Regions from separate parts of the Homo sapiens genome. Here all the other regions are linked to region 3. The links come from fine-mapping of genetic effects on gene expression. A gene starts in region 3. Each other region holds a variant in brackets. All regions are shown on one strand. Distances are between the middles of the regions.

What was found. PIP is the estimated chance that this variant, and not a neighbour inherited with it, causes the effect. A credible set is the group of variants that fine-mapping cannot tell apart.
Region 1: its variant is the best candidate, but not a certain one, in a credible set for the expression of TOGARAM2 in whole blood (INTERVAL, PIP 0.87).
Region 2: its variant is the best candidate, but not a certain one, in a credible set for the expression of TOGARAM2 in cerebellar hemisphere (GTEx, PIP 0.55).

The regions. Positions count from the first base shown.
Region 1 is chr2:29,022,521-29,033,161 of GRCh38, forward strand. It overlaps TOGARAM2 (TOG array regulator of axonemal microtubules 2), which reads left to right. Exons shown (of 20, transcript NM_199280.4): 12 at 566-671; 13 at 1,619-1,854; 14 at 4,333-4,491; 15 at 10,414-10,531. Among named protein-coding and RNA genes, the nearest start is that of TOGARAM2, 47 kb to the left of the region's middle. RefSeq lists an enhancer at 1,207-1,708. The variant G/C (reference allele first, on the strand shown) is at 4,093.
Region 2 is chr2:29,058,833-29,069,473 of GRCh38, forward strand. PCARE (photoreceptor cilium actin regulator) reads right to left here. Exons shown (of 2, transcript NM_001029883.3): 2 at 2,863-6,235. The coding sequence ends at 6,037. Among named protein-coding and RNA genes, the nearest start is that of PCARE, 10 kb to the right of the region's middle. RefSeq lists enhancers at 4,039-4,953, 6,297-6,979, 8,281-8,781. The variant C/T (reference allele first, on the strand shown) is at 4,666.
Region 3 is chr2:28,975,864-28,986,504 of GRCh38, forward strand. It overlaps TOGARAM2 (TOG array regulator of axonemal microtubules 2), which reads left to right and starts at 5,435. Exons shown (of 20, transcript NM_199280.4): 1 at 5,435-5,675.

The DNA of each region.
Region 1 (10,641 bases), 47 kb after region 3:
GTGTGCCCTGCGACCCTCCAAGCAGCCTATGCATGGCTCTGTGGTGTACCAAAGCCAGGCATGGCAAGGATGCATTTGATTCCACACCATGGGGCCCAGGAAGGCCGCAGCCCTTTATTTCTCTGAATGAAATTGAATCTGCTCCGAGCGCTCCTCCCACTGTGGGGATGCAGGACCGTAGTCATGAGCAAAGCAATGCCTCGGCCTCCAGAACATTTGTGAGAAGCCCTCCCTGCCTTCAGTCCTCCCTGTTCAAGTGCCTTTTATTGAAGGTGTTGGCTTTGTGTCAAGGACCCAGACAGGTCCTGGAGGGGGGTGGGCTTCCATACAGCACTGTCAGAGCTGAGGGCTGGCCAGAGGCCACATAAAACTGGCTTTTACTGAGTGGTTAGGATTCCAGGCCAGGGTGTTACCCCGGGAAACCCTGCTCTGAGGCCATGGAATGGCACCCTGCTGCGGGTGACGGTGGACCGTGATGGTGTGTGATGTGGGGCCCCTAGTCTGCAGAGGGGTGGGGCTCCTCCCTCTCCACCCTTCTGCAACAGGGCCTGGCCTTGCTTCTCAGGCAGATGAAGGAGAAGGGTCTGGTGAGCATCCAGCGCTTGGCAGCCTGTCACTCAGAGGTCCTCACCGGGAAGCTGCACGACGTGTGCTTGGTGGTGACTGGGGAGGTGAGGCCCCCCAGCCTGTGTGCTGTGCATTTGGCCCCACTGCAGCTGCTGGATGCAGTCCGCTAGCAGCTGTGGAGGGGCTGTGGCTTCAGGGACATGGGGATCCCTGCTTATTTCTCAGCCTTCAGCCACTGAGGTAGGAGGTAGCCACCCATTTCTCAGATTGGAAAACTGAGGCCTAGGGTTTCCTTATTTGTAATCTTTGAGAATGGAAACAATTAGAATCCCACATGCCCATGTGTCGGCCTGCATGGTCCTCTGTACTCAAAATGCCTAAGGAGGGATGGAGCGTCCAGGGCCAGATCCCCAACTCCAGGGCAGTGGTAGTATTTCCCAAAGCGTTTCTTTCATGGCTCTGTGGCTTGGTCTAGCTGGGTCCAGAGAGGCAGGAGGCTACATTTGTTCTCATGTGGAGGCTGTGCCCTGCCCTTGGGAGTGGGCTGCTCCAGTGGGGGTGGGGTGGGGATGAATACGGAGGACGCTGTTTTGTTAACACAGGGGCCTGGGCTGTGTGGGGAGCATCTGCCTTCCTGCATGTGGCCTGGGGTCTCTGTTTCCTCTGCAAAGTGAGGCATCCAGAAAAAATACAGTTACATTCTCCCAGGTTAATTAGAGCCTCAGTCAGCACTACTGTGCTTCTCATGGTACCTATTTCTCACTTGGTAGTTGCAAAGATCAAATCAGACATTCTTTGTAAAAGTGCTTTGAAGACAGAGTGTACACATTTCCTATGGTCATGATAATGATGGGATTAATAATTGAGATGATAACAAAATGGGACAGTTTTGCTCAGAGTGGCTGCAGGGTTTTTGTTTCCAGCGTGGCAAGGCCTAGGTCAGGGGAAGGGTGGGGGTGGAGGAAGAGGGTGGTGCAGGGCCCATTTTCCATGCGTCCCAGAGCCCTTGGCAGGGTCCAGCACCCTGGAGGGCCTCTCTCCTCTCTCCAAGGTCACCAACCTGCGGTCCAAGGTGTCTCACCTGGCCATCAGCACCTTGGGAGACCTCTTCCAGGCCTTGAAGAAGAATATGGACCAGGAGGCCGAGGAGATCGCCCGCTGCTTGCTGCAGAAGATGGCGGACACCAACGAGTTCATCCAGAGAGCAGCCGGCCAGTCTCTGAGGGCTATGGTGGAGAATGTGACCCTTGCCCGCTCCCTGGTGGTCCTCACCTCGGCGGGTGTCTAGTATGTGGCTGCCTGTTGTCTGAGGGGCGGGGAAGTCAGGGAAGGTAAGGCAAGGGGAGAGGCCCTGGGATGTGAAAGAAGGAGGGAAGGGTGCAGGGAGGGAGGGAGGGAAGCAGGCAAGTGAGGCTGCAGGGGGTCCCTTGAGATGCTAGAGGACAGGGTGATGGGTCAGAGGTTCTGAGTGAAGAAGGGGCCCATCTCAGACTTCACAGCAGGTGCTTCCCACTTAGCTGGGGGAGGAAGACCCCTGCTTCCCTGTGCCGGGCATCCGGCTTCTCTCCCAACCTTTCATCGGCCAGGCCGGGGGAATGCAGGGACCTCTGGCTGGAAGAGGAGGGGGCCGTTGCACTCCAAGGCTGGGGAGCACACCGTGGCTGTGGGAGCGCCCCGGGAGACAGGGCTGCAGAGGCAGCCTGAGCATGGGCCCTGGAGCTCCTGTCACCCCCAGGAGCAGTGTTGCTTTCTGATGAAATGTGGGCCAGTGAGAAGAGAAAGTCGCAAAATTTCATTCTCCAGCTTGCCCCACTGGACCTGCTCCTGGGGAGGGGAAGGTATTGGGTTCCTGTTGGAGCCTTTCTGCAGATTTGTTTTCCCTGTCATTAAACACCCACACTAAAAGCAAAACCAAAAGCATTTCCCAAGCTGCTTCTCCCGCACAGCAAAAGGCCTCTCCACCCCATAAGTGGATCATTACACTGATGCGTGAGGTTTCTCAGTAGCCCCAGGGGCCTGTTGGACCAGCTGGGAGACCTTTAGTAATTGCACCATAGCATACTGCAAAGGGTGAGATCCTGCCCAGCCACATTGCCTGGGTTCACATCCTGATTGTCACTTCACTTCTCTGTGTCTCAGTTGACTCATCTGTAAAATGGAGATAATAATGGTGTCTACCTCATGAGGTTGTTATGAGAGGTAATTGAATTGACTCACGAAAGCGCACTTAGAAAGGTGCCTGCCCATTCCTGACATTCACTGAGTGCTTACTGTGTCTATAATTAACTTAGGAGAAATGAATTGTATTTTTTTTTTCTGGATGCCTCCCTTTGGCTCAGCTTCCTCACCTGCAGAATAGTGATGATAATAGTAGCTAATGAGGTAGATGTGAGATAATGGATAAAAGGTGCTGGCATGGAGGGACAGGCAATTGATCACTGTCAACAAGAACCAGGGTCATGGCTTGTGCATCTGAGTCCGCTGGGATCTTGCTGAAATGCAGATTCTGGTTCAGATGTCAGTGCTGCTGGTCCATGGACCATGCTGAGTAGGGAGAGTTCTGATGTCCCCCACTGTGTTCCACTGGGGTGAGACTCTAGGGGACAAAAGGGTCAGTGCTTCCTGATGGAGTGTGGACACAGAGGCCCTTAGAAAGAGGTGCCATTCTGACAGGTTTCTCTTATAGAGCTCAGGTTCCACTTGTTATGGTCACCAACTCACCCATGAATCCCTCTTCTCCCTCCTGTCTCAGTTCAGTTCAGCAAACATGCATTAAGCTCCTGCCAAGCACCAGGGATGTGTCAGGCACAGCAGGGCAGTGGGGTTGCCACAGAGAGGGAATCAGGACTCCAGCCAGGACACTAGGTAGGGAAGCACCAGGGGCCTGGGGCGGAGAAGGCAACCAGCCAGCCCCGAGGGGCCTGGAACATGCAGCTCAGCTTCCCTGGGATTCTGCAGAGGGACAGGCAGGTGGATGAAAGCTATGTCCTTCAGCTCTAGTCCCATCCCTTCCGTCAAGCCAAGCCCATTCAGCAAGGAGTCCTTACTCCCTGCCTCCACTTTCTTGCCTTCCATTTCCCCTCTGCCCATCGAGTGTTGCTCTTGTTTCTGCCTCACCCCAGTACTGTTCTCTGTACATTCAGGCCTTTTTTTTCTGGAGATACTTAATGATCACTCTTTTCGTCATTATGGATACAGCAGTGAAAAAGAAAAATGAAGCCCCTGTTGTTTTGGAGTTACTTCCTAGTCAAGGGAGACAGATAACCTGGTCCCCGCCCACAGGGAGCTGGCAGCCTGATGGGGGCCCTAAGGGTGCAACTGTACTTCCCCGGGGACAAAGACAGCGCTACCTTGGGCAGTGGGTGGGATGTCTAATTCTGCCTGTGGGGCTGGGGAAAGAAGGAAGAAGAGACACTGGTTAGGTAGGACTTTTCTAGGTGGAGGGAAGATGGAGAAGAGTACTTAGACAAAAGGAAGGATGTGTGTGCAGGAAGCTCCCAAGAACGGTATGCATACGGTGTATTG[G/C]GGAACCTCGTGTAGCTTCATGTCACTTTCCTTCCCTCTCCCGTTGTTGCTGTCACCCTGTTCGTAGAAAGTGAGTGCTCTTTCCTCAAAGATTCCCCTCAGCTCACATGGGGACAGGTATTTTTGGAGCCCCTGGCTGGCATGAAGCATGGGTCTGCAATGGTAGATCCATGTTTGCCAGCCTGGGGACTCCCACACCACTATCCTGAGACTGACCCCTGGGCCATGATTTCCTTTCAGCCACCGGAACCCCTTGATCCGGAAATACGCGGCTGAGCACCTCTCAGCTGTGCTGGAGCAGATCGGCGCTGAGAAGCTTCTCTCGGGCACCAGAGACAGCACAGACATGTTGGTGCACAACCTGGTGAGGCTGGCACAGGACTCCAACCAGGACACCAGGTAGGGCAGGGCCAGGGGCCTGGGGGCAGAGAAGGCAACCAACCAGCCAGCCCTGAGGGGCCTGGGGCACACAGCTTCAGCTTCCCTGGGATCCTGCAGAGGGACAGGCAGGTAGGCGGAAGCTATGTCCTTTCCTTTCAGCTCTTGTCCCATCCCTTCCATCAAGCCAAGCCCATTCAGGGAGGGGTCCTTACTCCCTGCCTCCACTTTCTGGTCTTCCATTTCCCCTCTTACCCATTGAGTGTTGCTCTTGTTTCTACCTCACCGCAGCACCATTCTCTGTAAGAACATTCAGGCCTTTTTTTCTGGAGATATTTAATGATCACTCTTTTTCTTATTAAGGACACAGCAGTGAATAAGAAAAATGAAGTCCCTATTGTATTGGAGCTTACTTCCTAGTCGAGGGAGACAGATAATAAATAAATAATTATGGTAATTTTAGATACATATCAGGGATATAAAGAAAAAATAGGCCGGATGTGGTTGTTCATACCTGTAATCCCAGCACTTTGGGAGGCCAAGGCAGGAGGATTGCTTGAGGCCAGGAGTTGAGACTGGGCAACATAGTAAGATCCTGTCTCTACTTAAAAAAAAAAAAAATGCTAGGGGTGGTGTTGCACACTTGTAGTCCCAGCTACTGAGGGGCTGAGGTGGGAGGATCTCTTGAGCCCAGGAGGTAAAGGCTGCAATGCAATGGAGTTGGTGGGGGGGCTGCTTTAGACTGAGGGTTCAGAGAACCTTTTTTAAGAGTGACATTTGAGTTGAGAGCTGAACGGCTACACGGAGCCAGCTCTTTGAGGATCAGGCAAAGCAAATGTCACAGAGGCCACTGGATGGGAACAAGCTTGGTGTCCAAGGGTGGGGACGGCCAGCCTGGTGGAGCACAGTGAGTGAGGGGTGGGGGTGAGGGTGGGCAGCAGGCCCAGGTCAGAGACGTTCTCCTAGGCCAAGGTCAGGAGTTGGGATTTTGGATGGTGTGTGATTGGAAGTCATTGGAGTGTTTTCTTAGTGGGAGTATGAGGAGGTGTTGGAGGATTTTAAGCAGGAGAGCGAGAGGATCTGGTTGACTGTCTTCAAAAGCTAGGGCTGGAGCCCAGTTCCTCACACTCCTCAGTTCAGGGCTTATTACTACCACATCCATTTGGATGAGTGTGTAGGTCTCCACCCCTCACTCCATCCTCGCCCCAACTGGAGACCATGTGGCACCTGTCAGGGCTCCAGAGGCCATGCCCACCCTGGATGGGTGAGCTCCAGGCCAGACATTCTCGTAGGGTACCCACGTCTGAGGGTGCTCCCTGAGGGATGTAGTGCCTGCGGTTCCTCCCATTCTCCCCTGCTGCAAACTGTGCTGCATGGCACCTCCTCGGACGTGCCCAGGAGCAGGACCGTGGGTCAGATGCATGTGTGTGCTCCAGCAGCCCCGCCCTGCCTGGGGTCCACATCTGCCTCCCTCCTGCACAGCCTCTCAGCATGTGGCAATTTCTAGATTTCTAATTTTTATCCATCTAATGGGTAAAAATGATAGCTCATCATTGTTTTAGAGTGCTTTGACCCCCTGCTTATTAATAATGAGTTTGAGTGTTTCTTTACATGCGTGTTAGCCTTTATAATTAAAAAAAAAAGCCTCTCTGGCTGCCGCAGGACTGGTAGTGAGAGAGAAAGGCAGGAGGAACAGCAGATGATGGCTGCCCCACAGTCCAGGCAAGAGGGGCTGGAGGCTCAGACTGGAGAGTGGTGGGTGGCTTCGGCCAACAGCCAACAGGATGGCAGAGCCAACAGGATGCAGGTGGTAAGGGTTTCAAAGACGAACTGAAGATGCTCTTAAGTTTTTACCCTGAACAATGGTGAATAATAGTGCCATTTGCTGAAATGAGGAATATCAGTGGAGAAGTGGAAGGTTTTGCTTACTCCTGCAAGAATGGCCATAATCAAAAAACCAAAAAATAATAGATGTTGGCGTGGATGTGGTGAAAGGGAACACTTCTACACTGCTGGTGGGAATGCAAACTAGCACAGCCACTGTGGAAAACAGTGTGGAGATTCCTTAAAGAAGTAAAGGTAGAACTACCATTCGATCCTGCAATCCCACTACTGGGTATCCATTGGGTATCATCATATGAAAAAGATACTTGTTCACGCATGTTTATAGCAGCACAATTCTCAGCTGCAAAAATGCGAAAACAGCCCAAATGCCTCATCATCAATCAACGAGTGGCTAAAGAAACTGTGATATGTATGTATGTATGTGTGTATACACACACACACACACACACACACACACACACACTGGAATACTTAGTCATAAATAGGAATGAATTAATGGCATTTGCAGTGACCTGGATGAGATTGGAGACTATTACTCTAAGTGAAATAACTCAGGAATGGAAAACCAAACATCGTATGTTGTCACTCATAAGTGGGAGCTAAGCTATGAGGATGCAAGGGCATAAGAATGACATAATGGGCCGGGTGCGGTGGCTCACGCCTGTAATCCCAGCACTTTGGGAGGCCGAGGCTGGCAGATCACAAGGTCAGGAGATCGAGACCATCCTGGCTAATACGGTGAAACCCCGTCTCTACTAAAAATACAAAAAATTAGCCAGGTGTGGTGGCGGGTGCCTGTAGTCCCAGCTACTCAGGAGGCTGAGGCAGGAGAATGGCGTGAACCCGGGAGGCGGAGCTTGCAGTGAACCGAGATCGCGCCACTGCACTCCAGCCTGGGCGACAGAACAAGGCTCTGTCTAAAAAAAAAAAAAGAATGACATAATGGACTTTAGGGACTCAGGAGGAACTAGTGGCAAGGGGGTGAGGGATGAAAGGCTGCAAATAGGGTTCAATGTATACTGCTCGGGTGATGGGTGCACCAAAATCTCACGAATCACTACTAAAGAACTTACTCATGGAACCAACCACCACCTGTTCCCCAATGACCTATGGAAATAAAAAATTAAAACAAAAACAGGCAAACAAAACATTGCCTGGCTGGGTGCAGTGGCTCACATCTGTAATTCCAGCACTTTGGGAACCCAAGGCAGGTGGATCTCTTAAGCCCAGGAGTTTGAGATCAGCCTGGGCAACACAGTGAAATCCTGTCTCTACAAAAAATACCAAAATATTAGCCGGGCATGGTAGCACGTGCCTGTGGTCCCAGCTACTTGAGAGGCTGAGATAAGAGGATCGCTTGAGGCCAGGAGGCACTGGTTGCGGTGAGCTGAAATAGGGCCATTACACTCCCGCCTGGGCAACAGGGTGAGACCCTGTCTCAAAAAAATAAATAAATAAAAAAATCACAAATCACATAGCCATTAAACTTGGAGCAAATACTTTGAAGAGTGAGTTTAGGGGGACTGGAAGAATGGGATGAAATGTCTATAAACAGCTATTCTTTGTGTAGCATCTACTAGAGCATCTACTATATAATAAAGTGTTGTGTAACTCTGCCATGCAACGAAAAAAAAAAGGACGTAGAAGGTTTTGGTTTGCTTGTTGGTTTTAAATGGTTGTTAGAGGGATGGAAATCAAGGTCTAAAGTCTCTCCAGATCTGCTACTCCTCTCCATTCTGACCCATCCCTTACACTAGATGATGGTGACTACATTTCCTTTTCCTTCCTAGAACTCTGTCCTTCCTGGTTTCCATGGCACTGTACTCCGGGGATTCTCCTTGTCCCTCTGTGACCATTCTGCCCCTGACTGCCACCTGAGTGTAGGTGCTGCCAAGGTGTCTTTAGTCCTCATCTCCCTCTCCTGGCTTTTACTTCTGGTGGCTCCAGCCACCAGCAAAGTTGGAGGCTTCTCAATTCTTGCCCTCCACTCCAGACCCTTCTTCGAGCATCAGTCCCCATTTCTAAAGCCTCCATGGGACCCACCATCTGATGTCCTACTGCCATCTGCAGTGCTGAGTGTCCCTAAATGAACTCATTGCCTCCTCTCCAAGTCTGCCTCTCTGTGTTCTCTCTATCATTAAAAGTGACTGTTATTTACTGAGCCACCCAAGAGGCACAATGGGGACTCCCATACTTCATTGATTTCAAGACACACATCCTTCCCTGGTTTTAATATTTTTAAAATTGGCATGTATCTTACAATGACAGGCATTTCACAGTTGCTGTTGGGCTTCAGTTGGGCTAGGCAGTGATTAGGACATAGGTGTTTTTGTAGTTTTAAGAGATGGGGTCTTGCTATGTTGCCCAGGTTGGAGTGCAGTGGCTATTCACAGGTGTGATCATTGCACACTACAGCCTTGAACTCCTGGGCTCATGTAATCCTCCTGACTCAGCCTCCCAAATAGCTGAGACAATAGGTGTGCACCACTGTGCCCAGTTTATGATGTAGTTATACTATCTGCACCTTCACAAACTTAGTCAGTGTTGCTCAGAGTATTATTTTCTGAATTAAATTTTCCATTGTAGGAACTACACTATGAGCCTTTCTTTGTAAATTTTTAAATTTATTTTCAGAAGTGATTTTTGGATGCTCTCTGGAGAATCATTGAGTTTAATCTGTTTAAAGTTTCTTAGAAATATTACACTATTATTTGCAATTGAAATGAATAATTATTGTATATGAGAAAAGGCATGGCAACGTCAGTGGATATCCATTAGATATCAATGAAGCAAACTCTCACTGTGGAAGGAATGACCAAGTCCCACATTTTTTGCAAAGCAATCACTAAGAACTTTACCTGACCTAAGGAAGAAAAATACCGACAAGCAATGCTATCTTCTGTTTCTGAGATAGCACATAGAAAGATTGCCCTCACACATGGGGCAGTGTCATTGGAGGCTATGGAAATCACCAGTTTTTATTTTTCTGATTTTCCTTAGTGGAAAATAAAGTAAGGGCACCTTTTACAATTAATGGAGTCTTAAGTTTGAATGAAATATGATTTAAGATTTTAGATGCTTCCTGCTTCACTTCCCACCAGCTACCAAATCCTGTGGTTTCCATCTTCTCAGCAGCTCTTGGATCTGACTGTGCTTCCTTATCCTCACTGTACTGCCTGATTTCAGGCCTGCACCATCTTTTTCCTGGACTATTATGGTGGCCTCCTAATAAGTCTCCTGGCCCCTAGCCTTGTCTCCACCAATCCATCCTCCACACTGCTGCTAGAGACATTTTGACTGATGTACAAATTGAATCATTCTTCAGCTTCCTATTGCATGCAAACTGAAGCCTAACTCCTTCATGTCTCCCTAAACAGGGTCCTGTGTTCTCCTCTGGCCTGTCTGCTTCCTGTGTCCAACCTCTGCTCACTATTCTCCAATATATCCCCCTGCTGACATGTCACACTGTGTTATAGACCTAAATAACCCTGTTCCTCCGACGTATCCCAAATCCCACCCAACTTGTGAACTCCTACTTATCTGTTGAGCCCCAACGCAAGGGTCACCTCTTCTATGAAGCCCTCCTTGATTCCCTCACCTGCCACCACTGTTCATCAGGTAGATTGACTACACCCTCCTATATTGTCCCGCTTTACCCTTTCTGGGACTTCTAAATGTTCCATATTAGAACAAAATTGAGTACACTTTGGTATAGCCATTCAACGGAATATTTTGTAGCCATTAAAAAGGATGTTTATGGAGAGTTTTAAGGGACTTGGGAAGATGATTAATGAATGATAAAGTGAAAAAGCTGAATACAACTTGTATATACATTCTGATATCAACTAGAAAGTAAATGCCACAGAAAAAAGACTATAGGAAAATATGTAAAAATTTAATAGGGATTTTCTCTTGGTAATGGGATTATAGATGATGTTTATTTTATTAATCTATTTTTTAACTGGGTAGGGATTGCTTTTGTAATTAGAAAAAGTATTAAAAACTCTCTTTAATTAGGAAGATTATGTAAAGCTGTAAAGCAAATTTATTTTGCATTTCAGAGGCTGTTTCTTTATCTTGCTCTCTCTCCTGTGGCAGATTTTATGGCCGGAAGATGGTGAATATCTTGATGGCGAACACTAAGTTTGATGCATTTCTGAAGCAATCTCTCCCATCTTACGACTTGCAGAAGGTCATGGCGGCCATTAAACAGCAGGTGAGCTGTGGGGCATAAGTGGGTCATGGCCTTTTGGGGGTGGGGGTGACAGTGCTGAGCCTGGTAGCCTTCATGTGGGTCAGGGGAGTGGGGAGTGGATTCCAGAGATG
Region 2 (10,641 bases), 83 kb after region 3:
GCAATGAGAAGCAAAGATTTTTGGAAAAGACTTTTCTTTTTCTCTTAATGCTAGCAGCAGTTGTGTGTGTGTGTGTGTGTGTGTGTGTGTGTGTGTGTGTGTGTGTGTGGAAAATGATGGGAGTGGTTGAGGTTCATAGAGGGAATTATTTTAAAAACTCTTGGAAACATTGTTTTGAGTTTTCATCCAAGCTAGTTTGAGGAATGGCTAGAATTTCAGCTGAACTTTGATTAGATATGAAAAGTAATGTCCTGGGCTAGGTGTGGCAGCTCACACCCGTAAACCCAGCACTTTGGGAGGCTGAGGTGGGAGGATTGCTTGAGTCTAGGAGTTTGAGACCAGTCTGGGCAACAGAGCAAGACCCCATCTCTACAAAAAAATAAAAAATCGTAGCTGGGAATGGTGGTGCATGCCTGCAGTGCCAGTTAATCAGGAGACTGAGGTGGGAGGATCACTTGAGCTTAGGAGTTCGAGGCTGCACTGAGCTACAGTGAGCTATGATTGTGTCACTTCACTCCAGCCTGGGCGACATTGAGTGAGACCCTGTATCTTTAAAAAGAAAAATAATTTCCTATTTGTAAATGTTGGAGAAAATGGAGAATTTCTTCCATAGAAAGGTATGCTGTCTCCTTCCAGTACTGCCTCTATGGAATAATCTAGATCTTGCTTTCAGCAGGTATCAGGAGGAAGGCTGGCCAGGGTAAGAGGCCTGCTCTGCCCTCACTGGCAATGTATCTTTGGAGTGAGATCTTTTTTTCATGTGTAAAAGGTATTGAAAAAACACTTGCTTTGTCCATCTCATAGCGTCTTTTTTCCTCTAAAGATTTAATGAAACAATGTACATGATTGCATTTTGAAAAAGTAGAGTGTTACATACAAAGAAAGGTAGAATTATTAACTGGAGCCTCATCCCACACTGTGTGCAAAGCCTGCTGTTTAGCAGTGTTCAGAGTAATTGCCAGTCATCTATCTGACTGACTGACAAGCCTCATGACTCAACATGGGAAAGATGAGAGATTCAGAGGCTTAATTTGTTTTTTTCCATGTGGTATATTTGACATATGTACTTGCAATTGCAAGCAAATATTGTAAAGTCTTTTCTCTTCACTTTGAAAGACATGAAAACCTTCAAAGAAGGAAGTCAATTCTTGCTGAGTTTGACAGCTGTTTTTAAGTTTCTCCAAAGATCAAAGCGCAGCCCAGGAATGAGGGGGAAATGATATTGGCTTCTTTTCTCAATCGGGATCTTAAAGTGCGGAGGCAGCAGAGATGAACACTAAAGACCAAAATGGCCAGGATTATGAGTTCCGTTCCCCGAGGTGGCTCAAAAAGATGCCTTAGAAAAGACAGGTTTGCCCCTGTTGTGCAGATGGCAGGATAAATAGGCTGACATTATTATCACTGCTTTGCAGATGAAGACACGGGCTCAGAGATGCCAGGTCACAGAGCCAGGGGATGGAGGTGTCATGACTCAGGCTCTGGTGTTCTAATTCCAACTCTCAGGAGCGTGATACCCTCTGGCTCCTGAGAATGCGTGGCCCATTTACCATACCCCTTGTTTCTTTCCCCTCCTGCTCTCTTCCTCCTCTTTTTCTTCTTCCTCCAATTTAGGCCAGTCAGCTTTATCTATGGGCATTAACTGAGCCCCGCCAGTGCTATCACTCCAGCCAAAACCGATTGCTGCCTCGTGTGCTAGACTTCAAGGCTGTCTGCAGTGACAGCGTTCAGAAGCGGGTGACTAGATCAGTGGAATCCTAGAGCCACCTGATGCAGGGCCCACCGACCATTCACAAAGTTACTTTGTGAAGTCCAGGAGTGCGATCAAGCCTGCAGTGTCCAGGGTCCTTCCTAAAATTGAATTAGAGTGCTGAGTGAATTAACTGTTTGCTCCTCTTCTTGTGTGATGCATTTTTAATTACATTTCATAAAAACGTCTGGATGGATTGATGGAGCTTTAGTTAAACTTCAGGTAGGCAGGGGGAGTAGACGATGGTGCAGTATAACATGTTCTGTTAATACAGGCTCAGAACACATGTACTTTATGGCAGTTCAACTGAATCTTTGATGTAGGGCTACTTAAAAATATATTACCTTTGAAAAGATTTCCTTTGAAAGATAGAGTGGGTGCTTTAGCAGCCTGTAAGCCGTCAGCCAGACGATCAATTGACAAACACGTCAGCACTTATAATTCACTGCAGCGGCTCCCCTGATACATGCAAAACACTGGTTTATTTCAGAAAAAGAATATATTTCTCAAAATCCCTTTCATTCACATTGTAAGGTTTATGAGGCAAGTCTTGTCAATCCTAGGCCCTTCACAATGAAAGAAAAGTCTCTTTGGTCTGTCTGCCCTGCGTTTCCTACAACATGGATTATTTTAGGCTCTGAACTGGGCATACGATGTGAGGAAGGAGAATAGATACGGCTTAAAGTAAACAGCAGCTCAGACCCCAGCCACGGAGGGAGGTTATATTTCATTTTGAAGATTGTATTTATACTTGCAAAAAGCTATCACTGTTCTGCCAGAATATGATGTTTACTTTTTTTTTTTTTCTCCATGAATCCTTTTGATGGGAGCAGAAAATTCTGTTTTTTTCCCTGGGGTGGAACTGTTTACAGTGTCACTAAAGTGTTGGGTAAAGGGCTGGGCTCAGTACCTCCCTCTCCACAGCTCTGGGGTCTCCATGGTCGGGAAGATGAAAGCTGTGCTCCTCCAGAGTGGAGCTGGCCCGAGTGAGAAGATGGGTATGACATGTACCCCTTAGATTGATCTGTGGTGGGTTCCTCCTTCTCTGCATCCCGGACAGTCCTTGGTTTCTAACTCTATGAAGAAAAAGTATAGACTCATGGGTCTTCAATGAGTTGGGTTCATTGGCTTAATAATTTTTATTAAAACAAAAAGCAGAACAAAGAAAAACTGTCCTCCCTTCCCCCTTGGGCAAAGGAAGTGGATTTGGCCCAGCAAGGATACCATTCTTGGGTAGAAGGGAGATGGTGGGCGTGAGCAGCCCTTGTCTGAGAAGCTGTACAGCTGGGTTTGCCCCTCCTGCCACCAGCAATGCGTGCTCCAAGGCAGACTCAAGTTTGTGGAAGACCTGGTCTCTAGGAGGCAAAACTGACCAGATGCCACAAAACTGTTCCATTGTGGATTTAATTCCTTTTGTACAAAGTCTAATTCACATGTAATTTGAGCTAAGTCTGGTAGTTGGTATGGTAGCCAAAAACACATCTTTGACCCGCCTGCTCCTATGTCGGCTCAGCACTGCTTCACCTTTGACCTAATTGACCCCCAGCCCCCAGCACCTTGGCAACCCCTCCCCATCTTCCCTGGAGTGGGGGAAGCTGACTTGGAATTCCAGTAGCCTAAGGTTACTGGGCAACACAATGGTGTCACCAGCTCACTGTCCCGGCTGCCTGGGTCTGGTGGCAGCTGGGGGCTTTTATGACATCGTGTGTGGGGACCTATGGCAGGAGCCTCGCCCTGTCCTGGCACACGTTGGCCCCAAGCAAACGTGGAGGTCCTCCAGAGGGACAAGGAGGCATCATGGGCATCTCCACAGCTGATGGCAGGATCCCGGGTGCCCTGTACCCCTTCGTCTGCTGCCTGCAATATGGTGGGTGGGCACTTCCTGCTGCTTGCCAGCCTAGCCTGGCGAGGGACAACCTCTAGTCTCAGACAGCCTCCTGCCATGCATGCTCACGGAAAGCACCGTTGTTCATTCCGGACCCTTCCTGCGTGTTCTCCATGATACTGACCCCTTCTGTGGTGGAATAATCTGCCTGGCTCCCTGCTGCCGCTAGCTTGCATGGCCACAGCAGGGGGCACTCGGCCACCCTTTCCACTTTCTACCCAGCCCTGGACTTTTAAGATGAGGCCCTTTACGGAAGGAGGCCTGGGCTGGAGACTCAGCCTTGCTTCCCCTCACTGCTGGAGTGGCTCCACTTCATATCCCGGTTCCAGTAATGAAAATGTGTATAATTCCTGGGGTTCCACCCCTCATGGTACCCCAGTTTCACCCACTGTGTCCCACTCCAGTCTCCCTGCAGCTGGGGAACAGCTTCGTTTCCTCGGACCTCCAGGAATCCTGCCCCTAAATCTGAGCCCAGGCAGGGCCCACTTTCTGAGCAGTCCCACCTGAAGCCACTTACTTGTGAGCTAGACCTCAAAGGCCGCTCACACTGTGTGTCTCCTGCTCACTCAGCTCAGTGCCCAGCTTACCTAAGGCTCACCCCATGGTGACCCAATGGTTGGTCTGCCCAACCATTTAGGGAGAATGCCCAGATCTCTGTCGGGCAAGTTTGCTGAACCTGGTCCATCCTCACGTGCTTACCTTGGCCCCTGCCCTGCCTGGGTGGCTGGACTTCCCTGCGTTGCCTGCAGTCCAGGCAGCTCCTAAGTGTCCACCCAGCAGTGGGTGTGGCTTGGCTCTAGAATCGGCTGGCCTGGGCACTGCCTGAGCACTTCTCTGAGATGAGGGCGGCAACAGGAGCAAATGCGAGCAGACAGCTGGGTGTGTCCCTTTCCAGCAGAGGGGTGGGTTGTGGCCCCTCTTGGTAGTTTAATCAGCTGTTCTTTGGGTGCCTTTGAATAATAATTGGACAAGTCAAGGTGGGATTCATTTACTCAGAGTCATAGCCTCTCTCTGGGGGAGGTTGCTATAGTCC[C/T]TAGGGACCCAGTTTAACAAGTTTTTGAGCCCACAGTCCCAGCAAGAATGGGTTTGAGGTCTATAATTACCCCAAACTTTAAAAATCAGCTTTGCAGCAGATCTGGAGGATCGTCCCTTTGCTGTACCCCAGTGGGTAAGAATTCTTGTCTTTTGCCAACCCATTGAGCCGGCATTGAATCACTCAATTACTGCAAAATCTTTTCTAAATAGAACGCACACCACAGCCTCCAGTGGAAGCATTCCAAGATCTGCAGCAAATATCTAGCTCATTGGCAGAAGCAGGTTTTTGGCATGAACAACTGTTTTTCACTTTGATTTCGACTCCAGCAGAAGTTCTGCAAGATGACCTGGGAATAAAGTTGGCCAAGAAGCCTCCGAGGGGAGATCGGCGTGTGAGTACGTATGCCTCACCCACGCTATCTTCTGAGCTCCAGCACCCACGGCATGTGGAGAATGGGCTGCCTTGTTTGGGAGGCTTGGTTTACCCTACTCCGTCGAGAAGCATGTAATGCGTAGGGCAGTGAGAGCATTTGCTACATGCTTAGGCCGAGAGGCAGCGTGGCTGGTATTGTGAGCTGTCAGCTTTAAGTTTACAGCATTGAAACTGAGCTTGGGAAGGAGGAGAGGACAGAGGACGGGTGGGGCTGTGTGTTTTAATCCTGGCTCACTCAGCCTTCTCATTTTGGGAGCCATGCACTTCTAAACAAAGCTCTCAATAGGGACTTTGTCAATGCTGTGCCGCTACTTAACCTTACAACAAAGAAGCTTTGCGACCATTTGCGCACCCATGTCTGCTTTAGGCAGGTGGAGTGACGCAATAGTTACGGGCAATGGAATGTAATAAAAAGAGCAGAGAGATTCTAACACCAGACTCATCTGTGCAAAATTTTGCTCTATTCTCTTCTTAGCTGTATGACCTTCAGCCAGACACTTGAGGGGGCCTCTCCCCACACCTTCGGTTTTCATATGCGCAAAACTGAAGAATGCTATGTGCTTCATTCACTGTTGTGAGGCTTAAGTGATCTCAAGGAATGAACCCAGTTAAAACCCTATCAAGCATGCAACTATACATTCTCCACCCCCCACCCCACCCCAAATTAAGGCCAGCACTTGAAGCATTAAATACTGTCATTGTGGGGTCTAAAAGTTCTGGTTAACCTTTGAACCCCAAGGCAGAGCAAGATCTGGGACTGAAAACGGCGATTGTTTAAAATTCAGCAGACCCACTGGGCAGTGCACCTTCCAGGCCTTTCCAGGACACCTCAGTAGGAGTTTGGTTTGCCCATCATCTCTGGGTCAGGCTGGACACTTGGCTGTCACACTTGGCCTTCTGGGGTGACTGCGTGAGTGTGGCCCCCTCGTCAGCCTGTCAGGACACCTCCTCTTGCTGGGGCTGCGCCTCTGGCTGGGATTTGTCCTGGATGTGGCCGGTCCGAGGCTCCGGTTGCAGCCCGTGGCCCAGCACACAGAACTCTGGGGGAGATGCACGCCTGGTGCCGCCCTGCAGTTCAGGGGAACAGGGGCTGCTCCCCGGCTCTGTGTCCTTCTTAGGGCTCTCCTCGCTGCTGCTGCCGAGAGAAAGGACAAGTGCAGGTCAGACACTCCTCCTCTGCTGCTCCTTCCTGCCCCACCCCTGTCCTCCATTCTCCCTTTCTGTCCCTCCCCAGCCCTCTCCCACAAGCCTGTTCACCCTGGGTGCCAGGCCTCTGCCCTCTGTACCAGGCTTGCCAGGCTGGTGCCGCCATTGCCGTGTGCCTGCAGGGGTGGGCGCTGTGGGAGCTGGGGTGACTGGCTGAGTCCTGTTCTTTCCCCTGAAGCCCTGGATCCTGCTGCTCTGAACAAAGCAACTCCCTCAGAAGCTCTGGGAGCTGGGCCTTTATTTTGTTTTTGTTTTTAAAGCACTTCTTGTTTAATAAGGGTTAGGCTTAGCCAGTTGAATTAAAGACAACAACAACAACAAGGAAAAAACCGGCTTCGCTCAGCTGCCACCCTTTTCCCGAATAGAGAAAAATGCAAACAGCTTGGCCCAGCGCAGGCCCCGCATTTGGCTGGAACAGAGATTCTCAGCTGCCAAGTGACACAGCTAAGAGGGGCTTTGCATGGGGAGAGGACCCCCACAGGAGCCTGAGTGGGATTTGGGAGTGCCTTGGGAGTGCAGAATGGAGGGTGGCCCTGAGCATGGAGCAAGCTTTGGCTAGCAGGGGACCTGCCCAGGAAACCACACTGGCCGTCTGCTGGCAGGACAGCCTGAGGCTTCCCAGAGTGGGAATTAGAGGCTGACTGCCTGGTTTCAAGTCCTGACTCTCTGGCTTATTAGTTCACCCCTCTGAATCTTTGCTTCCTTCCTTATAAAATGGAAGTAATAGGCCGGGCGTGCTGGCTCACACCTGTAATCCCAGCACTTTGAGAGTCCTAGGAGGGCGGATCACCTGGGGTCAGGAGTTTGAGACCAGCTTGGCTAACATGGTGAAACCCCATCTCTACTAAAAATAGCAAAAATTAGCCGGGCATAGTGGTGGACACCTGTAATCCCAGCTACTCAGGAGGCTGAGACAGGAGAATCGCTTGAACCCGGGAGGCAGAGGTTGCAGTGAGCCGAGATTGCGCCATAGCACTCCAGTCTGGGCAACAAGAGTGAAACTCTGTCTTAAAATAAAAATAAAAATTAAAAAAGGAAGTAATAATAGTACCCAGCTCATCAGGCACTCATAGGTATCAATACTGGGTGAAGCATGGAAGACCCTTGGCATACTATTGTATTAATAGCATAAGTGCCCCATAGGTGGGTAGTGACACTATGGAGCTGCATTGTTGAATGAACAGGAAGTCACACTAGGAAAGGACTCTAGGGACCACACTATCCTACTACAGGGACTATGAGGCCTTGGTCAGAGCTCTCAATCAGTTGCCTCAGGGCCAGGACAGGACCCTAGTTCCCCACATGCACAGGCAAGAAGGCCCTTCTCTCTGCTCGCGACAGCACATTCTTGCCTGATCTGTGAGCTTTATTGCACAATGTGCTCAGCTCTGTGAGGTCAGGCTTACATGGGATGCCAAACCAGTGGAGAATATGTTTGCATTTGGATCTGAACAAGATCGAGGTGGGTGGTAGGAGTCGTGGGTAAGTGGGGTGGGCGCTAAGACCAGCACACAGCTATGGTTGTCAGACAGGAAGGAACCCAACTCACTGTGCCATGGAGCCAATCTCATCTGTGTTGGCCTCCGGCCCCATCACAGGTCCCTACAGGAGTTCAGGGCCCAGGGCCCACTGGGTATCTGATCCAGGAGACTGAGTAAGGGCGGCAGAGCGTGCATGCCTGGGCAGTCCAGGCCAGGTGAAGACTGAAAACACCACATTGAGGGGAGAAAGTCTGGAGCCTTCTCAAATGCACACAGTGCCCCAACATCCTGAGACCTAGAGGCTGGTAGCTCTGCTGGGGGATTTGGCACAGAAATAACAGTTGAAGCTCAGTAATTGAGCTTCCTGGGTAAGCCTCCAAGGGCTGTTCCCAATCCCCAGGTCCCCAAGATCAGGAGATATAAACATCATCCATTTTTCTAAAAAGGGGGCTTCTGCCTGCACGGAGTGACTGGAAGGGCAGGCTGGTTCAGCTTGCAGGCCTGCCTCAGCTGCAAGACATCATGGGTGTGGTTGTGTCCCTGCATGTCCGTGCTTGGGGAAACAGCCCGTTCTGAGCAGCCTCTGGCTTCCTGGCACTGGCTTGTTGCATGATCTTGGGGAAATCATGCCTAGTCCCTGGTGGTGTTTCCCCATATGCAGGATGGCAGAAAAAAATGCTTGCCATTCACAGGGTGGCAAAGGCTTGATATGCTTACAGCAGGTGCACTTCTGCTCCCAGATGCCAACTTTATACCTGGGGGCAGGGGTGCTGGGGAATGAGCACTTTCCCATCACATGCTCACAGTGTGGGAAGGCTTACAGCTGTGTGGTGTCATAAGAGGCGGGGGAATGGTTGCGAGTCATTATACAACCTTCCACGTGACCTTGGGAAGCGTCCTGTTTATGAACCCTCCCCTCTCTCTCTTTTTTTACATTTTTCTCTAGATGAGGTCTCACTCTGTCACTCAAGCTGGAGTGCAATGGCACGATCTTGGCTCACTGTAACTGCCACTTCCCAGGTTCAAGCAATTCTTGTGCCTCAGCCTCCCGAGTAGCTGGGACTACAGGTGCGTGCCACCATACCCTGCTAATTTTTGTATTTTTAGTAGAGACGGGGTTTTACCATGGTGGCCAGGCTGGTCTGAAACTCCTGACCTCAGGTGATTCACCCACCTCAGCCTCCCAAAGTGCTGGGATTACTGGCGTGAGCCACTGCACCTGACCGTCCTCTCTCTTTCAAGCCACTGTTACCTCCCTGCCGCCCCTGCCCCAAGTATTGAGATTCAGGACACAAAACAACCTTTTAGGCTGCCCTATTCTGAGGAGAAGGCTGAGAGAAGGGCATCATTTTCTTCTTGAACAATTTTATGTTACTTTATTATTGCTCCTGCTGTTTTAAAATGTTAGTGTTTTTAATTAATGCCATTTTATTGTCCCTGTTCTCTCAAGCTCTTCTGCTGAAGGGCACAGTTCTAGAAATCTAATAACTGAATAAGTGGCGGGAGTGAGGAATAATGCATTAACATTTATAGAGATTCTCAGATGAAAACCACTGTACTGTAGGAAGCTCATTTTAGATTTAAGAAAAGAGCAATGTTACATTAAGATTCTTGCAAAAATAATCAATATTTCATTTCTTTCAAGTGGCTGGGGAAGTTTATCTAACTGTAATAATGCACAACTTTCCCAAGATAATATCTTTATTTTACATTGACTGCCGAGTACTTTGTAAAAAATTACCATTTGTGCCTGGACAGATTGTGAAGTCTGCAAAACGTATCACTCTGGCAGAAATTAACTGCTGATTTACACAATCGTGGGCTATGCAAAGATAGCAAGGACCGATGTTAGTTGAGCTTTGTCTGATCTTGATAGACACATTAATAAGAGTTCTTCTCTAATAGACCTCAGACATTTTTTTTTTGTTTCTATGCCAGGTTGGGAAAAGGCACATTTCCCCGTGTATTCTGTAAAATAACCACTTGAGCATACGAGTTCTTCTTTCAGTGTCCAGTAATGGCTACACTTTGACTCACGCCCCATTGCGGCTGCATGCCTGGGCCTGTCTGCACGGCTGGACCAATGACATGCACGTCCATTGCCCTGATGAGAAAGGCACACTTGGAACTCAGCCTGCCCGGGGGAGAGGTAGCAGCCCCACCCCTGGATTCTGGTGCTCAGCACTCATGAAGACTCTTGTTCTCACTCTACAAACTTTTGAAGTTAGAGGAGAAGTGGAGCTAGGTCCTTGGGGATATGGGAAGCCACACATTTATATTCTATGCCTCCAGGACTAGCCATTCTCAAAGTGTAGTCTGGGGGCCCCTGGTTATTCCTGAGACACTTATAGGGGGCCCACGATGTCAAAACTATTTTCATCATAATACTAAGATGTCACTTCTCTTTCTCACTCATTCTTTTGTGAATGCAGGGTGGAGAGCCCCGCGTCTACATGAGGTGTGAGATCCCAACAGGTTGACAATGGAAGCAGAGCTGAGAATCCGGTCATCTTATATTAAGCCAGATGCTAAAAAGGTTTGAAAAAATGTAAGACAGTGCTACTCTTCTCCCTAAATTTTTTGTTGTTGTAGAAGATACTCTTTTCATAAAGACACATGCATGCAAATGTTCATTGCAGCACTATTCACAATAGCAAAGATATGGAGTCAACCCAAATGCCCATCAATGACAGATTGGATAAAGAAAATGTAATGCATATATATACCATGGAGTGCTATGCAGCCATAATAAAGAACAAGATCATGTCTTTTGCAGGCACATGGATGGAGCTAGAGGCCATTAATTATCCTTAGCAAACTAACCAAATACTGCATGTTCTTACTTATAAGTGGG
Region 3 (10,641 bases):
CACCCCTATGCCTTTCCTCATTGCTGATGATGGGATGGAATTTCAGCTCCCCACTGGGCCCTGCTGGTGGAGGCTTTTTAAAAAAATGACAATATATGTACAGGAATATGTACATATTATAAGTATGTGAAACATATGCTTAATTTTTACAAAGTGGAAGTTTAGGAGCATTTTACACATTTTCCTATTTCTTTGCATGTTCTTATAAAAACATATCAAATTCTGGGCCAGGTGTGGCGGCTCACGCCTGTAATCCCAGCACTTTGGGAGGCCGAGGTGGATGGATCACGAGGTCAGGAGATCGAGACCATCCTGGCTAACATGGTGAAACCCCGTCTCTACTAAAAATACAAAATAATTAGCCGGACGTGGTGGCGGGTGCCTGTAGTCCCAGCTACTCAGGAGGCTGAGGCAGGAGAATGGCGTGAACCTGGAAGGCGGAGCTTGCAGTGAGCTGAGATCACACCACTGCACTCCAGCCTGGGCGACAGAGTGAGACTCCATCTCAAAAACAACAACAACAACAACAACAAAAACCCATCAAATTCTTTTTTGCCATTAGCTTCTGGAGTTATTTACTCACCTATTAACTCCTCCCCTCCCCCTGCCCTCCATCTCTCGAGCTTTCCTGTGGCTGTGGGGCAGGGAGCTGCTCTTCTCTGACACGTCCTTTTGTGGAATGGGGAGAAAGGAGGGAGAGGCACACCCCATGTGAGATGAGGGGTTGGCTTCTGTTGGGAGAAGCCCTGAAGGGCAGCTGGGGCCAGAAGCAGCATAACCAGAAGGCGTTAGTCCCCATCCTGTCATTACCACTGAATTCCTGTGTGACTCCATCATCTGCGATAAGAGGGGCTTGGCCTAGTCCTCTCTCTGATCCTGTGCTTAGGTTGCATACATTATTCTAGAGTTTCCCAGGAACTTCCCAGGGAACACGTCAGCCCAGTGGCAGGTGCTGGTTGGGAGGGGCCTGTTCTGTGTCCTTGGCAGTGTCTGAGCACCCCCACCCAGCCTGTGGTACTGACAGGGCCTTTCAGGCTCTCCAGGCTGGGGCTGGCCTTGGAGGGGGTGGGGCAGTGGTATTTTGGGAGATAAGCCAGCACAGTGTCAGTCTGGAGGCAGTGCCAGCTTGCCTCCATTATCCGCTTTTCTACCTGGGGGGGCGTGGCCTGTGAAGGGATGGGGGGCTTCCAGCCTTTCTCCTCAGCCTGGGCCAGGGCCCAGGACACAGGGCATCAGGGCTCTAAGGGACCAGGAGGTCACCCAGTGTCTGATCACAAATGACAGTTTGGAAGCCCAAGGAGGGCAGGGACTTGTTGGAGGGCACACAGTAATGGTGACAAAGTCAGGACTGGAACCAACTCTCTGTCCACTTGCCTGGAACCCTTGGCCATGCCCTATGCTAACCATCTTTAGCCTGGGGGCACCTTATCCTGAGGGATGGGTACCTGAGACAGAGATGGGGGAGGCGCCTGAGCATACCACCTCCTAGGGTCCCTACCAGGGGCCCTTGCTCCCCATGCTCCCTGGGATCTGACCTCCAGCTAGGCCTGGGATGGTCCTGGTTTATAAGGGGGCAACACCAGCCCAGGGGGTCAGAACTCCCCCTACCTGTTCCCTGCCATACAATGTATGGGGCTGAGACTCTGGTCTGCAGCTTGGATCTCAGGTCTGGTCCTGGAAGAAGCGGTGAATGTTGCAGGGGCGGGGGCTTCTTATGCCGCCAGCCACTTCCTCTCCCCACGTGCAGTCAGGTTGGTGTCGCTCTCTCAACACCCATGTGGAACCTGGCTGGCGCTGGTTCCAGAGATATAAGGCATGAATCCTGCCCCCAAGGAGCTCACAGTCTAGGTCTGTGTGGCTGGCTGGTGGGCCAGGAGAGGGGCGGGCAGTTACAGTCAGCGGATGAGTGGTGCTGTGATAGGGAAGTGCTGGCCCTAGAAAGGCAGATGAGAGGCACCTCTTTTCTAGAGAGTCAGTAAGGACTCCCCTTGGGAGCACGTGGGTGGGAATTGGCCAAGGGAGATAGGTATAAAGTGTTTTTTTTTTGGTTGTTTTTGTTTTGAGATGGAGTCTCATTCTGTCATCCAGGCTGGAGTGCAGTGGCACAATCTCGACTCATTGCAACTTCTGCCTCCTGGGCTCAAGCAATTCTCCTGTCTCAGCCTCCTGAGTAGCTGAGATTACAGGCATGCGCCACCATGCCCAGCTAATTTTTGTATTTTTGGTAGAGACGGGGTTTTACCATGTTGCCCAGGCTGGTCTCGAACCCCTGGCCTCAGGTGATCTGCCTGCTTTGGCCTCCTAAAGTGCTGGGATGACAGGCGTGAGCCACCGTGCCCGGCCGGAGATGGGTATAAGTAAGGGGTAGGAAGGGATATGGGAAAGGCTTTTGGGGTGGAGGGAACAGCATGAACAAAGGCCAGGAGAGGAGAGGAGCATGACAGCTACATCCCAGAGCAAGGGGAGAAGACCCCTCAGTGAAGTCCCTGCTAATAGCCCAGCTACGTGTTCAGGAGACTATTTGGATATAGGATGCTCAGGTCATTTGCAATGGGAAGTGTGTTCAGGGTATCTAGTCCTTCTTGTTGCTAGACATAGAAACAGCTTTGTTCACTTTACAAATCAACAAGGGCCAAGAGGACTCTTGGTGACATTTTTACTGAGGGAACAGGATCAGAATTTAGTAGTCTTCCACTGACCAAATCCATCAGCATGGAAAGTTATAGAATGTTGGTTTCTGAAATCTTGAGTAGATTTCTGGGGTAGATGGGGGCTATCCCCTGTGGATGTGGAGGGGGCTACTTATTTGGTACTTTCAAGAGCCCTCTTCCCAGCTTGTGATTCTGTATTGTGAGTCAGTTTAATTCATTCACATCAAGTATTTGTTCATCGGTTCTGGGGGTGGGAGCAGGCCAGTGTGAGCACACCCAGGAGAGTCGGGGCAATGACTGGGAACACTGGGCACTGGAGGAGACAGGTGACATCTGGTTTCCTTCATAGCTGTTGACCCTCTTCCGAGGGTCTGGCCGCCCTTCCACCAGGGGTCGATACAGGCTTTGTGAGACTCGAGGCTTAAACAATTTGGGGGCTTCTTTAAGAAAGAAAACAAAATTAAGTATGAAAATATTTTTTTAGAATGAGAAAAGAAGTCACAACAAATGACTGAGGGCTGGATTCGTGTCCCTTTCTTTCTGAGGTCTCTTCAGGGGAGTTCCAGAGAGCTTCCAGGTGGCAGCCTGGCTGCCCTCCCCACCTGGAGTGCCCCAATCCTTCCAGGCAGCTCCTGGCTCCCCCAGAGGCCCGGGGCTCAGGTTGTGTTTGCCTCAGCGGTTTCCACCCATGCTCCTCGACTGGCCTGCTCCTTACCTCGGGGATTTCATGTGGATGTCACACCTCACTGCCCCTGGGATTCGCTCTCTGTCCATGGTCACAGTGAGGGTGAGTGCGTGCTCTGTGCCTGGCGGGCACACTGAGGGTCACTGGAGCCACCCCAGGGAGGGAGGATCTGCAGTCTTCCTGCTAGGCATATGAAAGAACCAAGACTCAGAGAGTTTGTTTCTTGCCTAAGATGTCATTGCTGGGATCAGAATCCAGTCTGGAATCCAGGGGCTTCAGAGCCCTGGTTCTTAAGGGCTGTGCTGTGTTATCCATCCTCCCTTATTGCAGGTAACACAGGAACAAGCAGGGGGTTACCTGCTGGGGCCTCTCTCCATCACTCAGCTCCTGAGGGCAGGCTGTGCTGCCTCCTGTGTCTCTAGCATTTGGCACAGAGCATGGCCAGCCCACCTTGGGAACACATAATGCTCGGCCATCCAGTGGAGGCAGAGTGTGGAGAGCCCAGGAGCTGAAGGAGGATGCAGTGGGGCCTGATTAGAGGGGCTTGGCAGCCATGGTGCTAAGTCTGGCCCTTACACCAAGGACAGCAGGGGCCATGAGGGGTGTCCAGCAGGGCACGGCCATCGGATCTGTGTTCTAGAAGCTCCGACTCAAGCAGCGACATGCAGATGGGCTTTGGGGGAGCTGCACACACACCATCTCCCTGCCAGAGCTGAGGGACACCAAAACCTGCCTTGTCACGTCCCCGCCCTGGGTTCCCATGGTTGAGTCGCTCTCACTCACAAGCTGTGTGGCTTGGGGCAAGGGCTTAACTTGCCAGGCCTCTCTTTCCCCACCTGGGCATCTTCATACCTGTCTCCCAAGGGGAATCCGCACAGCCACTGTTCCTGGTTTGGAGGAAGAGTCTCCTTTCTGGGCCTCTGCTACAGGGAGTTCAGGAGTTCCGTTCGCCTTGTCAGCTGTGACCTCTGGCTTGGGGCCAGCACCTGCCCCAGAGGGACCTTGTTCTCAGTCATAATTGGCTGGCCCTCCTTGCTCCCTCCTGGATCTTGGTAAATGACAGCAGCTACTCCCAAGGCCTGCCCTCCCTGGCCATCTCAGGGAAGAGGAGAGAGTCCCAGGAAGGAGCTACCCCGTGTGCAAGCATTTCAGCAGCCCAGGCCTCGTGGGGTGTAGTTGGCCTCCCACCAGCCATCCCTGTGTGTTCCACACACCTGCTGATTCCTTTGTACAGAATATGGGGAGGAGCTGCCTGGGAAAATTCATAGTATCTTTGGGCGAGTGGCTGTTTGCAAGCCTGCATACAAATTGAGTCCTTGGCTTCCACTGTGTGCCCCCTGGATGGTGAGGGCTAGAAGGGGGTAGCATGAGGAGTGGGACTGGCTGTCATTCCAGAGAGAGGATGCCAGCCTGGGATTTCCGCCCAAGAGCCTGGGTTCAGTGAGAAAGTACACATGGGCTGCTAGGATTCACATTTTCCAAAAGTTAAGGTGGAGAAATCTGGTTGGGACGAAGGCCACAGGCTTTCTGCTCTGCAAGGATTTCTGGGGAAGTGATGGAGAGCCTACCAAGTGCTAGACAAAATTACAAGCTGTTACATGCACCTTTGAAATCCTTACAGCAACCCTATCAAGTCAGTACTATTGGTGTACCCATTTTATAGATGAGGAAACTGAGGTCAAGAAAGGTAAAGTTCTGACCAGAGGGCACACAGCTGGAAGTAGCAGGATCAGGATTCAAACCCAGCTGCCTGCTGCCAAGGCCTGGATGCTCACTCTGTCTTTCTGCCTCTAGGAGAGTTAGTAAACAGAAGCAGATTGAGCCCAGAGGCCATGTGAGCAAAACCAGGAGTTCTACCAACAACATCCCTGCACCAAGCCAGCTATGCACTTCCTGGCTGCAGTCACCAGGCAGGGGGGCCCAGTGCTCTCTCTTTCTGTGGTGTCCATGACCCTAGAGGACAGGTCGGCCACTTGGTAGTGCCTGTGCTCCGGTGAGCCACAGAGGCAATGAGACCAAGGGGAAAATCTCTCGGCTCGGTCTCTCCCCCGCGCAGGGAGCTATGGGCTCCTTCAGCGAGTGGTTGCTATGCAGCCTTGTTTATTCAAGGAGAGCTTTGCTGAGAGCTGGAGCACGCCAGCAGTGGAGCTCGTGGCCACCCAGCCCCTGCTCAGACAGGAGGCTGCGGCCCAGGACTGTGTGGCTGGTGGGGGCCAGGGTGGGCCAGGCCTGGGGCTGCCCCGTCCTTGCCTCCCTGGGCCCATGAGCATCAACGTCTCTATAGAGACCAAGGACCCTGGATTCCTCCAGTGACAGGGGTTTGGCCTCTGGACAGAGAGGTGAGAGACGATAGGTCCACCAAGCCATCTATTGTAGGTGGTGAATGGGAGGCTGGGTCAGGACCCCTGAAGTCCCTGGAGGGAGGGATAAAGACCTGAACTGGAGCAAGCACAAACACACAGAGAAAGAAAAAGCATCCTGCTGTGACTTGGAGGCTGTGTGACCGTGGGGATGTCTCTGACCCTTTCTGGGCCTTCATGTGGCAGCTCTAGGGGAGGAGGTTGGACTCACTGTTCTCTGAGCACTGGGAGCCAAGGAAGGAGGGGCTGGCCTGGGCTGACCCCTTCCCCGAGTCATGGCCTCTGTGGGCAGTGCTCTCTACCTCAGGGTGAACCCTTCACAGGGCAACAGCTCCCTGGGGTGCTGTGGGCGATGGTGCCGGGAAGGGTGGGGGCATGCTGTGGGGATGGCACCCGTGCTTAGGGGTGCTGGGGCACCCCGTGAGAGCATAGGCCTTGGAGGGGCTCTGCTCTGGGTTTGAATTCTAACCCCCCCTCTTTCTGGCTGTGTGGACTTGAGCTCTTTGCCTCTCTGAGCCTCAGGTTTCTCATCTGTGAAGAAGGGTTTAAAAAAAGCCCCCTTGGTGCTGTCTGTGAGCATGGAGACAGTCAGGAGGGCAGCTGGCACGTTAGCCCATGCGCAGAATGGAAGTTACTGTTTGTTGTTGATGCTGTTGTTAGGTGGAGATTGGCATGTTCCTTTCTGGAGCACATTTCAGTCTCCTGAAACTAAGGTTTTGCCAGTCACTTCTCCAGGACAAGGGCTGGTGCTGGCGGGGGACCTCAGAGGGCTGCCATTTCCTCAGGAGCGCTGGGAGGGGAGGGACTGGGGCCCGTACTCTGTCGGAGCATCACTGAGGCAGGCCACAGGGCATTGGTGCCTGGCCCCAGGAAGTGGTGTGAGGGGCCCATAATCGCTTCTATCCTGAACTGGGCAGTCCCTCGCTCTTCTCACCAATGCCCTGCAGGAGACGGCCCTGCAGCCTTCTAGCCACAGGCTGGCTCCCAGGACTGGCTCAGTTTCAGCCCATGGAGCCTGAGACTAACAGATTTGAAGAAAGGGGGAGGTAGTTGGGGGCAAGGGATGGGGAGATGTCAACCTGAGCTCTGGAGAGACCTGCCTCTGAGGGCAGCGCATCCTCCCATTGACCCCACGGCTACCTCAGAGGCACCAGACTCTGCTCACTAGCACAGAGGCTGGAAGTTTATTATTGCAGACAGAAGAATGCATAAAATGCATGCAGTGTGAGGAATAATTATAAAGTGAATGTCCATGTAGCCACCTCCCAGGCCAAGAAACAGAAAAACTGGCCGCCTCCCAGAACCCACCCCCGTGGGCCCTGTCCTTATCACAGCTGCCTCCCTTCCCCTTAGGGTTAATCATGCTACTAATTTTTCCTTGATTTTCTATCAAGTTTTCCATCTATGTCTGCATTTTTATTTTAATTTAATTTCGCTTCATTTTTTGAGACAAGGTTTCACTCTGTCCCCCAGGTGGGAGTACAGTGGCATGATCTCAGCTCACTGCAACCTCTGCCTCCTAGGCTCAAGTGTTCCTCCCACCTCAGCTTCCCAAGTAGCTGGGTGTACAGGTGCACACCACCATGCCCGGCTAATCTTTGTGTGTGTGTATATATAAATATATATATATATATATATATTTTTTTTTTTTTTTTTTTTTTTTTTTTGTAGAGATGGGTTTTTTCCATGTTGCTCAGCCTGGTCTCGAATTCCTGGCTCAGGTGATATGCCTGCCTTGGCCTCCCAAAGTGCTGGGATCACAGGTGTGAGCCACCACGCTGGGCCTATGTATGCATTTCTAAACACTCGATGTAATTTTGTCTTTCTTTGAACTTTATAGAAGTAGGGGCATACCCTGTGTGGTCTCTTGGGTCTGTCTTCTTTCACTAAACATTACGCTGTGGCATCGTCCATAGTGTTGAGTGGGGCAGTCGTTTGTTTCATTGCTCTGTAATATTCTATGTTGTGAGTGCACCATGATTTAGTCCTTCATTTTCCTGTTGGACATTTAGATTTTTTCCAGATTTTGGCCATTATCCATGGCACTGCTCTGGACACTCTCGAGCTCCTTTCCTGGATCACCTGTGCAAGACTTTCTCAAGGGTGGGTTCCTAGGAGTGGAATTGCTGAACATTAGGTTTGTGCATTTTTAGCTTTATCAGGTAAAGCCAGACCACTTTCCCAAGGGTTTGTGCCCATTTGCATCTCACCTGCCAGCTGTCATGAGTGCTCCCATTGCTCTGTGCTCTCACTAGCACTTGGCATTGCCGCCCATCTCAATTTTTGCCCATCTTTGTGGGATGGTGGTAGCATCTCATTTGCATTTTCTTGATTACCAGGGGGTTGAGCATCTGCCCCCAGCCATTCTTCCTCACCTCTTTCCTCCTCTGTTGGGTGCCTCCCTTCCTCTGCTCTCTGTGATCTCAGCCCCTCATGGTGCTCAGGCTTTTGAGCCCCATTTTTCTCTCTGCCCTCCCCACTCCTCCATCCCTCTCCTCCATTCTTCTTCTTGGAGAACCAATCACTATTCCACATACTTCTTAGTGTTTGAATTACAGACCCAGGCTCCAGAGCCACTGTCTGGAAGTCTGAGTTTCCCATTTCGTGTTTTAAAACCTCTGGTTCTTGGCCCAACTCACATCCCTTCCTGGGTCTTGGATTTCTCTTCAACAAAACAAAGACAGAAAAAAAAATGTCCCTCCACAGAAGCCATTTATATTTCCCAGGCAAAACCTGGTGTATGTCCTGGAGAGGCACACACAAAACTCTGGCTCCTATTCAAGAAAGTCGGCTTTCTCATGGGCCATTGGGAAGGGACAGGGCCGGGGTCTGAAGTCTTCTGAGCTTCTTGCAGGGAGGCCTTTGCCAAGAGCCCTTTCCTGGGGTGTGACAGACATTCAGATGCTAGAGTCATGCCAATACACCTTTGCTGAGACTTTGGACAAGATGCTTTCTTGCTTCCTAGTCCCTTCTGATCCTCTGAGTACATGTGCTTGTTTACAGTCTACAGTTTGAAGATTCAAGCTCCTGCTACTGGGCAGGAATCCTCAACTGATCAGCCAAACCCTGCAGAAGGCATTCCTGGGGCAGTGGACCAAGCCATTTTTCATTCGAGACTCCAGGACTATGATCAAGTGCTAGGATAACTCTTACCTTGATGGTGGAAATCTCAGGGCCAGCAGAAGACTTCCAAGCCCCAGCCAATGGCTGTGTGATTTCAGGCAGGATTGATGCGGTGGTATCCTACCCCTCCCAAAACCTTAATCCTTGGGAGCACACTACACAGGCTCTGACCAGGCACTGTAGTGGCAAGGTGACCATTTTGGGGAGGCCTTGATGGGAAGCTGGAAAAGGAAGCTTTCCTCCCAGTCCTGCTGAAGGCCTTGCCAGCTGGCAGCCAGTGTGATGCCTATAGGGGTATGGGCCCTGGGATAGGTATTGGCTCCTGATGGCCTTATGTAGGTGTTATAGACTGAATGCATGCGTCCCACAAATGCAAATGTTAAAGCCTAACCCCCCATGTGTTGGTATTAGGAGGTGGGGCCTTCGGGAGGTAATTAGATTCAGATGAGGTCGTGAGGGTGGTTGTCTCATGATGGGTTAGTGCCCTTAGAAGAAGAGACCAGAGAGCTTGCTCTCTGTCTCTCTCTCTGCCATGTGAGGACAAAGGGAAGACAGCTACCTGCAATCCAGGAAGTGAGTCCTCACCAGGAGTGGAATCAGCTGGCACCTTGATCTTGGACTTCCCAGCCTCCAGAACTAAATTGCTGGGGTTTTTTTTTTGTTTTGCTTTTCATTTTTTTGTTTTGTTTTTGTTTTTGTTTTAAGTCGGAGTTTTGCTCTTGTTGCCCAGGCTGGAGTGCAATGGTGTGATCTCGGCTCATTAACCCCTCATTTACAAGGGAGGAAACTAGCTGACCTCCAAGGCCCCTTCCAGCTTGAAATTTAGTAACAGAAGAAAGGCATGGGAAATTCTGTTAAATTACTAGACCAAGTTCTGATTAATCTCTAATTTATATTTGCACCAACACGATACACAAAGGTGGGGGCAGGTTCAGAAGATTTTGAATTTTGTAAATTTGTGTATAAGTTACATACGCTTTGTTACTAGGACCACAGCCCACTCATATGGTTCCTTTGTGAATTAGAAAAAGATGTCTCTTTCTCAAGACACTTTTCTTCTATTCATCAGAAAAAGACTGAAATGAATGTACAAATATGTACAGTCATCGTCTAAAACAACATTGCCAGGACTTTGGAGAAGATGTAGTGTGAGGCTTATGCCTGTAATCCCAGCATTTTGGGAGGCTGAGGTGGGTGGATCACTTGAGGTCAGGAGTTCGAGACCAGCCTGGCCAACATGGCAAAACCCCGTCACTACTAATAATACACACAAAAAAATAACTAGCTGGGCATGGTGGCACATGCCTGTAATCCCAGCTACTTGCAAGGCTGAGGCAGGAGAGTTGCTTGAACCTGGGAGGTGGAGGTTGCAGTGAGCTGAGATCATGACACTGACCTCCAGCCTGGCCGACAGAGTGAAACTGTGTCTCAAAAAAAAAAAAAAAAAAGATGTAGTGTGAGAGATGTCTCCTTAATTAGGATGCCCTCGTGCAGTGCCCAACCTAGACAATCAAACATGGCAGCCCTGCTTGTCACTTATCTCATTGTTTTTCAAAAACAGCCTAAATAAAACTTTCTCTCCCCCTAGGCTTTCCTATGTCTTTTAGACTGTTAATTCTCACATCAGAATTTCCTGGGGTTGTGGAGGGGGGATGTTTTAAATGCTGCGGCCCATCCACCCCCAACCCGAGATACCCACACTGAGCTGCTATTACAAATGGATGGCCACATTCCTCGGCTGCGTTGGGCATAAAACAGTTGGGAAGTGCTGCTTTGGGTTTCTGACCACTTCCTCTGCCCTGTCCTGGGAGGTCATTAGATT